Linked DNA regions of Homo sapiens: region 1 is linked to region 2. Evidence: fine-mapped expression QTL. A gene starts in region 2. The other region holds a variant in brackets. All regions are shown on one strand. Distances are between the middles of the regions. Region 1 overlaps ZXDC (ZXD family zinc finger C). Region 2 holds the start of ZXDC (ZXD family zinc finger C).

What was found. PIP is the estimated chance that this variant, and not a neighbour inherited with it, causes the effect.
Region 1: its variant is the best candidate, but not a certain one, in a credible set for the expression of ZXDC in monocytes after Pam3CSK4 (Quach 2016, PIP 0.77).

What each region holds. Positions count from the first base shown.
Region 1 is chr3:126,450,982-126,456,362 of GRCh38, reverse strand. The region is part of intron 7 of ZXDC (ZXD family zinc finger C); the gene reads left to right. Among named protein-coding and RNA genes, the nearest start is that of ZXDC, 22 kb to the left of the region's middle. The variant T/AT (reference allele first, on the strand shown) is at 2,299.
Region 2 is chr3:126,473,709-126,479,089 of GRCh38, reverse strand. ZXDC (ZXD family zinc finger C) reads left to right here and starts at 3,199. Exons shown (of 10, transcript NM_025112.5): 1 at 3,199-4,131. The coding sequence starts at 3,225. RefSeq lists silencers at 2,930-3,439, 3,510-3,769 and an enhancer at 4,327-4,852.

The DNA of each region.
Region 1 (5,381 bases), 23 kb after region 2:
CCTCCACCACAGGGTTAGCACAGACTGTGGAAGTGGCCCAGGGCACCCAGTTAGACAGACATTCTTACCAGGCAGGACTTTCCAAGGGTCTAGAGATCTCCCAGGAGCTGGGGGCAGAGGCGAGGCCTCTCTGGCAGGGTTAACCCTTTGCCTTGCACTGCAAGTGCCCTGTTTCTCTTTAAGCTTTCCTCTCATGTAACACTCAGCAGGGGCTTTTTGCCTGTGGGGTTTAATGGTGATTTTCCATTTCCCTTATTCTTGTGTACTTATTAATTTTATAAGGAAGAGCTGTCTCTTCTCCCTCATTTACTTATTCGCAGTATGGATTCAATGATACTGATTCTTTTTTTTTTGTTTTTTTTTGAGATGGAGTCTTGCTCTGTCGCCCCGGCTGGAGAGCAGTGGCGCGATCTCGGCTCACTGCAAGCTCCGCCTCCCAGGTTCACGCCATTCTCCTGCCTCAGCCTCCCGAGTAGCTGGGACTACAGGCGCTGCCGTGCCCAGCTAATTTTTTTTTTTTGTATTTTTAGTAGAGACGGGGGTTTCACCGTATTAGCCAGGATGGTCTCCATCTCCTGACCTTGTGATCCGCCCGCCTCGGCCTCCCAAAGTGCTGGGATTACAGGCGTGAGCCACCATGCCCGGCCTCAACGATATTGATTCTTTGGGCTGTAGTCAGTATTGGATTATGATCAATATTATCACCATTTATTTTGTTGCTCCAGTTCTTCCAGCTGTGGCCAATCCTTCAGTTGGATTCTTGTGCCCCATCAACATTCTCCATCCTGGCTTTTTGTTTTGAGCACTTCCTTCCTTCCTAGCACCACCAGGCTCTTGTATTATCCCTGTCCCTGCCCTGGAATCGACTCCTCCTCCAGAGAGCCCTGGTTTCTTTTGTTAGAGGATGGTATATAGAATCCAACATGCAGACACTCGGTGGACTTATTGTTACTGGGGTTTTGTTATACTAGGGTTTCAGTGGTCAGTGCTAGTATTTATGTATGTTAACCCACGCTGTGCTTTGGATTCAGGCTATTTCAAATTTTAGATAATATGGTACATATATTATTAATACCACTAGTTACTACATTGGTACTTTTCAGCAAAATATATCTAAGTGGGATCAAATGAGACTGTAAATAGCTTTACATCAGTTCAGGTCAGTTATGTTGCTAAATTACTTTTGGCATTAAGTTTAGGGAAAAAAAATTGGGTTTGGGATTTTTTGGTTTCAACATTTGTGATTGAGAGACTATGGACCTGTAATAAGTCCAAGAACAGCAGTTGCAGTGTAACAGGACTGTTAATGGAATCGGGTCATTTAGAAACAGTCAAGACTTCGCTGTTGTGCATGTGGTTAGGAGCCAGTGCACACGTCAGTTCTTAGGAAATGTACAGTCTGAGCAATAGCATTTGAAATCCAAGACTCTTCCCATTGTGTTGCTGTTGAGTGTAGAAAATAAAATGTGTGAATTTCTTTATCTTGAGTATTGAGATTCTCCCCTTAGAATAAAACAAGAATTTTTCTCTCAGTGTAAAAATGTCAAGTTTTATTCTTGAAATGAATAGCAAAGTTAAGCTTAAAAACGTGAACAGCTTCAGAACTATAAATGGGTATGTATACCTTTCTGCTGTCTAAGGGCAGAGAAGGGAAAGAAAGTGTGGTGCTTATCAGAGGAGACAGCAGCAAGACACATTGTGACAGAAAACCAAGGGTATCCTGTGTCACAGTGAAGTGTAATGAGGGCACCTCTCCTTTCAAGAGACGAAGATTGAATACATGGGAAGCACACTCTCCGCTGTGTGTTGTCTAGGAGAGGTGCACCCTGTATGGAAATATTTGGGAAGGTTAAGATTAAGACAGGGTAAAATAAAGCAAAGGCAAATCACAAAGCAAGGGCTAATGTTAATATGAAAAGTGCAGAATTCAAGGAAAAAGCATGGGGACAAAGAAGATTTTTCCTCTTTTTGGTTGCTGTTCATGTGTAGCCTACAACAGAACTATAAGACCTATAGACATTTATATGAATATTTATTTGAAAACGTATAATATCAAACAATGTAAAAGCCAATAGAAATCTCAGATAATTGAATGTATAGAAACTAGCAGTTTGAAAGTGATTAGTTCATTATTTGCTGATCAAGCAGAAAAATAAGCATATGAAAGATATTTAAAATGGGATTAATAAAGTTGATTTAACAGATCCTATTCCATGTCCTTTGAATATTTATAGAAATTAAATGGAACAAATTAGGGCATCAGGAAAACTATACAAAAGTCTTTACCAAAAAAAAAAA[T/AT]ATATATATATATGTGTAGTACTACCTATATATATACATAATATATAGTACTGCTTATATATATATATGCCTATATGTACACATATATATATACATGTATAGGCAGTACTATGTTTTCTGATCATAATATGTTAAATTAGTAAAAATTACTTGGAAAACAAAACCTCTAGACAATCAGGTGAAAGAAGAAATAAAAGCGAGGCTGGGCGCGGTGGCTCATGCCTGTAATCCCAGCTCAGCTACTCAGGAGGCTGAGGCAGGAGAATCGCTTGAACCCGGGAGGCAGAGGTTGCAGTGAGCCAAGATCGCACCATTGCACTGCAGCCTGGGCAACAAGAGCGAAACTCCTTCGCCAAAAAAAAAGAAAAAAAATAAAAGCTAATTACAAATACAGGAAAATGGATAGGCCATGTGTTTATAAGTTTGAGCTCTTGAGCCAGTGACTTCCCTGCACGTTCAGCTTTCTCCTTTGTGAAATGGTAATAGAAGCACGCTGCACTTGGGATTCTTGTGGATTACATGTGAGGGTCTTAGAAACACTTGATGTGTAAGCCAACTATTATGTATTACTGTATATGGAACACAAGGGATGTAGCCAAAACTAAATGCAAGTTTGTGCCTCAGATGTCTTCCTATCAGAACAGAGTCAAATCCAGATTTTGATGCTTAAATGTGACAGCTTATTCAGATTTAGAAAAACTTTTGGTATGGGCCAAAGAAAACATATCCTTAAGGGGATATGGCCCCTAGGCCCTCATTTTCCTTTTCTGTCTGAGCAATTAAAAAAAGCATTAAGTAAATTCCACAAATTCTTTGGAATACCTAGAGATAAACAGATATCATGTTAACTGTATGATAATAAGTTAGAATACTTGCAACAAAATGCAGAGTTTTCTAGGAAAACAAGTAATCATTCAGAAATAAGAATATGAATAGTTCCTCAGTTCTCCCCCTTTGTGGAATTTGTGCAGTAAATGCTGCTCCAAAGCTCTGTGGAAAACAGAAGCTTCCCATGAAAAATCTGACAAGGGTATCTCTCAGAAAGAGAGCTGTAATCCCAGCACTGTGGGAGGCTGAGGTGGGAGTATTGCTTGAGGCCAGGAGTTCAAGACCAGCCTGGGCAACGTGGTAAGACCCCCATCTGTAAAAAAAATAATAATTAGCCACGCGTGGTGGTGCACACCTGTGGTCCCAATTACTGGGGAGACTGAGGCGGAAGAATCGCTTGAGCCCAGGAGATGGAGGTTGTCGTGAGCTAGGATCTGCCACTGCACTCTAGCCTGGGTGACAGTAAGACCCTTGTCTCAAAAAAAAAAAAAAGAAAAACTGCAGATTGGTGACTCTTACGAAGATAGATGGAAATGTTCTAAATAAAACACACTTAGGATCTGGCAATATATATATTTAATGTACTATTCTGACCAAATGGAGCTTAATCAGATAGCTTGAGAATGATTTAATGTTACGAAATCTGTTAATTGCATTATCTCAATAATAGATCGGTGAATAACTTTATTATTCTCTCAACAAATCCTGTATTTGATTTACAAAATGGATGGGAGGTTTCAGGGAGAGCAGTTGGAAGCCTGTGTGCTCACCTGTTAGGAACGAGAGTGGCAACAGCAGTGGGGAGGAGTGCTCGGCTCCTGCACCTGTCTCGATGGCAGAGCCCACAGGCTTGGCTGACAGACGTGGGATGAAGGAAAGAGAAGCCTCTCACTCTTCCCACAGCATTGTAGTGCGATTTCATGCAGAAGTCCAAGCAGGTTCCAGGACAATTGTGTAAGAAGCTATGGACAAGAACGTCTAAGAAAACGGAAAATGACATAGAGGATTTGCACTGTAGCTAAGACTTCACGCAAGGCTGTGGCAGCTGAAAGCATGTTCTGGTGCTGGGGCTGCGTGGCAGAGCCAGGAGCCCAGGATCCAGCGCACTGGGCACCGACCTGGGACCTGGTCATCTTTGCGTGTGGAAAAGATGGCATTTCCAGTTATTGACAGGTGAATGCTGGCCTTTTAGGGAAAAAAAAATATTAGAATTCCATACAGAATAAAGAATGAAGATGAGAGGTTAAAGGTTTTTCTAAGGCATGAAGAGCTGTGGGGGCAGCCTGCCCTTGTTCTTTTTGTCGTGTGTCCTTCACATGCAGTAACTCTGTTCACGCCTCACAAAAACCCTATGAGGTGGAGACCTGCCATCAACCCTTCCTGCACGGGTGCCACTGAGGCCCCAAGGTTAAATCATTTCCCAGAGTGTATCAGCAGAGGCACAGCCACAGAGACACGTCCGCACAGAGAGCTTTCCAGATCACCAGTAACAGCGTGAGATCATGGTGCAGAAGGTCATGAGGAGGATGGCAACGAGCGAGACACAGCCGGTTGGTGCTCACAAGGACATTGGTAGATCTGACTGAGGGCCAGGTCGGCTAGGCCTTCCCAGGTGACAGGAGCCCAGTGCCGGCCTTGGTGCACACAGCGCGTCCTTGTGCTTTCTCAGGAGAGCTTCACTGGGGACACTCTGTGATGTTTTTGGAGGGTCATTTGGTAATGTGTTCAGGAGCCAAAAAATATGCATAATATTCAGTCTTACAATTACATTTTTTGAATTTATCTCAAGGAAATCCCAGGGATCTGTGTGAAGCTGCACATGCTGCTGCTGCTCAGTGCGGGACTGTTTATAATATTTGTAACTCAAATGTCCAGAAGAACTGTACACTCTGTGCATGTTTTCAGTAAGTTCATATTTGTAAGAAAAAGTGGGTGTGTTGAGAGACAAATTTTTGTGTACATTTACCTGGAAACAAGCAGTAGTACACATATGCATGCATGAAGTGGTGTTTTCCTGAGTGTTAAGATTGTGAATGTTTTATTATGATCATTTCTACTTTTTCTATTGGAAAATACTTTGTGTAATTAAAACATGAAGATGGAGCTACCATCAAAATGGTGAGCAATAGAGCACTGTTCCTCCTGGGGTGGCCTGGTGGGCCTGAGGGACTCAGGTGGTGATGAGGAGTGGCCTTGAGTCCCTTTCCTTTCCATGGGACAGTGGGGACGAGAGCTAGAGTGATGAGGCAGGTTAA
Region 2 (5,381 bases):
CTCTGCCTGAGCCCCACTGGATGACCACATTGAGCTGACTCAAGCCCACCTGGTGAAGTGGCGCGTCTGACCCTCGCCAGGAGTCCTGTTGCTCCTTTCAGGGTATCTCAGCAGAAGGCTGAAACAACCTAGTATCTGAAACAACCTAGTATCAGATTTGAGCTTTGGTTGGGTGGGGGAGTCTTAGGAAGCGGGGATTTGCTCTGGATTGGCTCTTACCAGAAATCGGGTCAACACCATGACTAGGTTTCTGACTAAATCCTATATACAGAGAGGGAAGCACACAGACAGACAGGCTGTCAGGGGTACAAAAGCGGCGGCTGCTCACGTTAGCTGAGAGAGGGGCTGCTGGGTATCTTGTAAATGGCACAGCAAGTGACCTCGCTTTATCTGGGTGGAGACACATCATGAAGTGGCCTTGCTTTGTCTCATGTCATTGTGTTTCAGTGACCTTGGCCTAGGTTGGTTTTCTGCGTGATGGTTCAAGTCTTACAGAACAGAGTGGCCCAGCTGTAGCACCCGGCCAGTTTCTGGATGGCAGGGGCTGCCCTTTTTCTTTCTCAGTCCCCTTCATTTTACACATGAGGAAACTGAGGCACAGAGAAGTTGTGATAGTTTAAAAATGGCTGCAAATTCTTTCCAGCACCTCCCATTGAGAGGTGGAGTACAAGTTCCCCTTGCCTGGGTCTGCAGTGTCTTATGACTTCTTTGATCACGAGAATGTGGCATAATCAATGCTGCGCAACAAGTTGGGCATGGTGGCATATGCCTGTAGTCCAGTTAATTGGGAGGCTGACCCGGAAGGACTGCTTGAGGCCAGTTGGAGGTCGCACTATGATTGCACCTGTGAATAGCCACCACACTCCAGCCTCAGCAACACAGGGATGGACTTGCTGGGTCATGTGGAGATTATGTTTAGCTTTCTGCAGAACTGCCAAACTGTTTTCCACACCGCAACGTTATACATTCCCACCAGCCATATGTGAGAGTTCCAATTTTTCTATATCCTGTTTTTAAAAAAATTACCACTATTTGAGTAGGTGTGAAGTTGTATCTCACTGTGTTTTGATTTGCATTTCCCTAATGATTCGTGATGTTGAGCCTCTTTTTATTTGCTTATTGGCTGTTTGTATTATCTTCTTTGGAGAAATATGTCTATTCAAACCTTTGCCTTTTAAAAAAGTGGACTGTTTGTCTTCTTGCTAAGAGTTCTTTATATATTCCAGATAGTAGATCCTTATCAGATATTCGATTTGCACACCCTTCTCCCATTCTGAGTTGTCTTTTCACTGTCTTATTGGTGTCCTTTTACCTGAGTAAGTTTTTAATTTTGATGAAGTCCAAGTTATCTATTTTTCTTTCTTGTGCTTTCAATATTATATCTAAGAAACTATTCCCTAATCCAGGGTCACATAGATTTACACCTACTTTTCTTCAAATAGTTTTATGTCTTACGTGTAGGCTTTTGCTCTAATTTGAGTTAATTTTTGCCTCTGATGAGAGATACACGTCCAAATTGGTTCTTTTGCATGTGGAGATCCAGTTGTCCCAGTGCCGCCATTATTGAAATGACTATTCTTTCCTCTACTGAATGGTCTAGGAACAATATGTTTTCGGCATAAACTGATATATATAATAGATGTATCCTATTCTTTTTAATATTATAATTTGTGTTACTTAAAAAAATACTCTTAATAATAAAGCATTCATGTATTTAACAAATATGCACCAAGAGTCTTCCTGGGCACACACAGTGAATAGGACACAGTTCCTGGGCTCCAGGAGCCTACATTCCAGAGAGGGAGAGACAGTGAAGGAGCAGGGAAGGAACTCAACAAAACAACGGGTGATGAGAGCTCTAAGAGCAAACAGATCAGACAGAGGTGGGAATACGGGACTGGGTAAGCATGTGCTTTGGATCAGAAGGGGCGCAGAGTCCTCCCAGAGGAATCAGAGATCAGCTGCGCCAAGTCTCTGAGGCTGGAACCAGCTTGGCTTGCTGGATGAACTGGGAAAAAGAGGTGGGGTGCGGGGGAGGGGTGGGGGGGGCAGCGGGAGAGTGGCGGGAAGTGAGGGCAAACAGGTAGGGGAGGGTAGACTAGCAAGGCCATAGGCGCCTTCGGGAGCAAGGTGGAGGTGAGCATAATTTGATGTGCAATTTTTAGATCATAAAACGGTGCCCCGTGGATGGGAGCGAGTGGAGCGGAGGGAGACCGATGACCAGCTAGTAGTTATTTTTCAGGTACCCAGGAATAAAGTGCGGGTTTGGATCTGAGTGGTGGTGAAGTTGAAGTGGAGGAGTCCAGATTGAATGCGGAGGTGTACGGTGAGGTGGGGGAGGGTGAGGACCGGAAACAGTAAGTAATTAAGCTGTTGCAGAGTGAGGTTGTGCCAAGTTTAGTAGGAAATACAGTTGGAAATACAGGCAGGGGTCCTGCGTATCAGGGAGGCCCCGTGTGCCGAGCAAGGACCTGGGCCAAAGCAAACGAGGTCTGTGCGCCAGCGGCGGCAGGCGAGCTTGCACTTAAGTGAGCTGGGGGTAGGCGTCCGGCCTGTTGGACAGGTTCGAATCCTGGATCTGCCGGCTGCCGAGTGACTCGAGCTCGCCGTCCCTGTTTCCTCACCCCTGGGTGACCGCGCACGCTTAATCAGCTCGGACAGGTACAGCCCCTGGGACGCAGTCAATGCCTACGAGAGGTTGCCTGTTAAGTGTCTGAAATATTAATACGATTCGAAGTCAAGACAAGCCTCGTCTTCCACGCCAGCGGGAACGAGAAGGAATCGCTCAGCGTTGGGAGCCTCACCCCGTCCCCTGTCGGTCCCGTGCCCCGCCGCTCGCCCTCGTAGGTGCCGGCGCTCCGCCCCCCGACCCCGCGCCCCGCCCCCCGACCCCGCGCCCCGCCCCCCGACCCCGCGCCCCGCCCCCCGACCCCGCGCCCCGCCCCCCGACCCCGCGCCCCGCCCCCCGACCCCGCGCCCCGCCCTAGTCGGTCCCGGCGCCCCGCCCCCGCCTCCGCCTCCGGCGCCCCGCAGCCCAGCCTCACGTCACGTCAGCCCAGCAGGCCTCGCGCATCGCCCGGCGGCGTCCGCGCACGCGCGGTTCCGAGCCGGACTCTACGCCGGGGCTTGGCGCGGATCGCGTCCCGGGGCGGCGCACGCACACCTGGGCGGGGCGCGGGCAGCTCTGCGTCCGAAGCTGCTCCGACGCCGTCGCTGGGACCAAGATGGACCTCCCGGCGCTGCTCCCCGCCCCGACTGCGCGCGGAGGGCAACATGGCGGCGGCCCCGGCCCGCTCCGCCGAGCCCCAGCGCCGCTCGGCGCGAGCCCCGCGCGCCGCCGCCTGCTACTGGTGCGGGGCCCTGAAGATGGCGGGCCCGGGGCGCGGCCCGGGGAGGCCTCCGGGCCAAGCCCGCCGCCCGCCGAGGACGACAGCGACGGCGACTCTTTCTTGGTGCTGCTGGAAGTGCCGCACGGCGGCGCTGCCGCCGAGGCTGCCGGATCACAGGAGGCCGAGCCTGGCTCCCGTGTCAACCTGGCGAGCCGCCCCGAGCAGGGCCCCAGCGGCCCGGCCGCCCCCCCCGGCCCTGGCGTAGCCCCGGCGGGCGCCGTCACCATCAGCAGCCAGGACCTGCTGGTGCGTCTCGACCGCGGCGTCCTCGCGCTGTCTGCGCCGCCCGGCCCCGCAACCGCGGGCGCCGCCGCTCCCCGCCGCGCGCCCCAGGCCTCCGGCCCCAGCACGCCCGGCTACCGCTGCCCCGAGCCGCAGTGCGCGCTGGCCTTCGCCAAGAAGCACCAGCTCAAGGTGCACCTGCTCACGCACGGCGGCGGTCAGGGCCGGCGGCCCTTCAAGTGCCCACTGGAGGGCTGTGGTTGGGCCTTCACAACGTCCTACAAGCTCAAGCGGCACCTGCAGTCGCACGACAAGCTGCGGCCCTTCGGCTGTCCAGTGGGCGGCTGTGGCAAGAAGTTCACTACGGTCTATAACCTCAAGGCGCACATGAAGGGCCACGAGCAGGAGAGCCTGTTCAAGTGCGAGGTGTGCGCCGAGCGCTTCCCCACGCACGCCAAGCTCAGCTCCCACCAGCGCAGCCACTTCGAGCCCGAGCGCCCTTACAAGTGTGACTTTCCCGGTAACCGCGCTCTCGGGGGCGGGCGGGCTGCGCGGTGTTGCAGGCAGGTCTGGGGTGCCACGTCCGCCCCACAGAGGGGCCTGCCAGACCTTAGCAAGCCGGGGACGCAGGCTCTTCGGGATTTGTATTCTAGCTCCTTCCATGTCATTCGATTTGAGATCTTGGCCCTGCCCTGCCGCAGGGATTCCGATGGCAGGTAGCGCAGATCACCACAGCTGCGCTTCCCAAAGGTGGCGGCAACAGATATCCTTAACCTGCTTGTGCTTGATGAAAGCGGCACGCATCTTCACAGAGTGGCACGGAGCTATGTGTCAGGTCTTTATTTTCCTCAGTCTCGTCATTTGTTTACGGGGTGCACACTCCGTGCTAGAGGAGCAGAGATGAATGTGGCCAGATTCAGGACCTTAACACGCTGGGAGGATAGCCACAGGTGTGCGCACATCCTGGCTTTTTTTGCCTTTTGCACTTTGATTTCCGTTGAACCTCACAGTTTTGTGAAGTTTTAAAAATTAGCCGTCTGTGAAGGTTAAAAACTGTCCTCTTTTACAGATGAAGAGACAGAGGCCGAGCCTTGTGGATAAAGTCCACTGCTGGTGGCTGGGCGCGGTGGCTCACGCCTGTAATCCCAGCACTTTGGGAGGCCGAGGCGGGCGGATTACGAGGTCAGGAGATCGAGACCATCCTGGCTAACACGGTGAAACCCCGTCTCTATTAAAACTACAAAAAATTAGCCGGGCGTGGTAGCGGGCGCCTGTAGTCCCAGCTACTCGGGAGGCTGAGGCAGGAGAATGGTGTGAACCCCAGAGACGGAGCTTGCAGTGAGCCGAGATCGCGCCACTGCATTCCAGCCGGGGCGACAGAGCGAGACACCGTCTCAAAAAAAAAAAAAAAAAAAAGTCCACTGCCTGTTCTTTCTCCTGTGTGTTGACCTGCAGTTGTTGGGAATGTAGGACTCCAACACAGTGAGCTCTTCACCAGGATGGGCAGCTTTCCCTGCTTTCACAGGGATAGGGTTCCTCCAGAAGGGCAAGAAAGGATTCCTCCCTGGAAAGGCAGAAGAATGGAGTCGGCTGGGTGGCAGAGCCCAGGTGGGGATTGTGGTCTGTGGTGAGGGCCCAGGAGGAAGGACCAGTCATTCAAACAGAAACTGGAATGTGTGCCTAGCATGCCCCTAACCTGTATATGCACACGGCTCTCCTTATAATGTCCTTAAACAAGAATTTTTAAAGGATGAGATGAGAATTATGAAC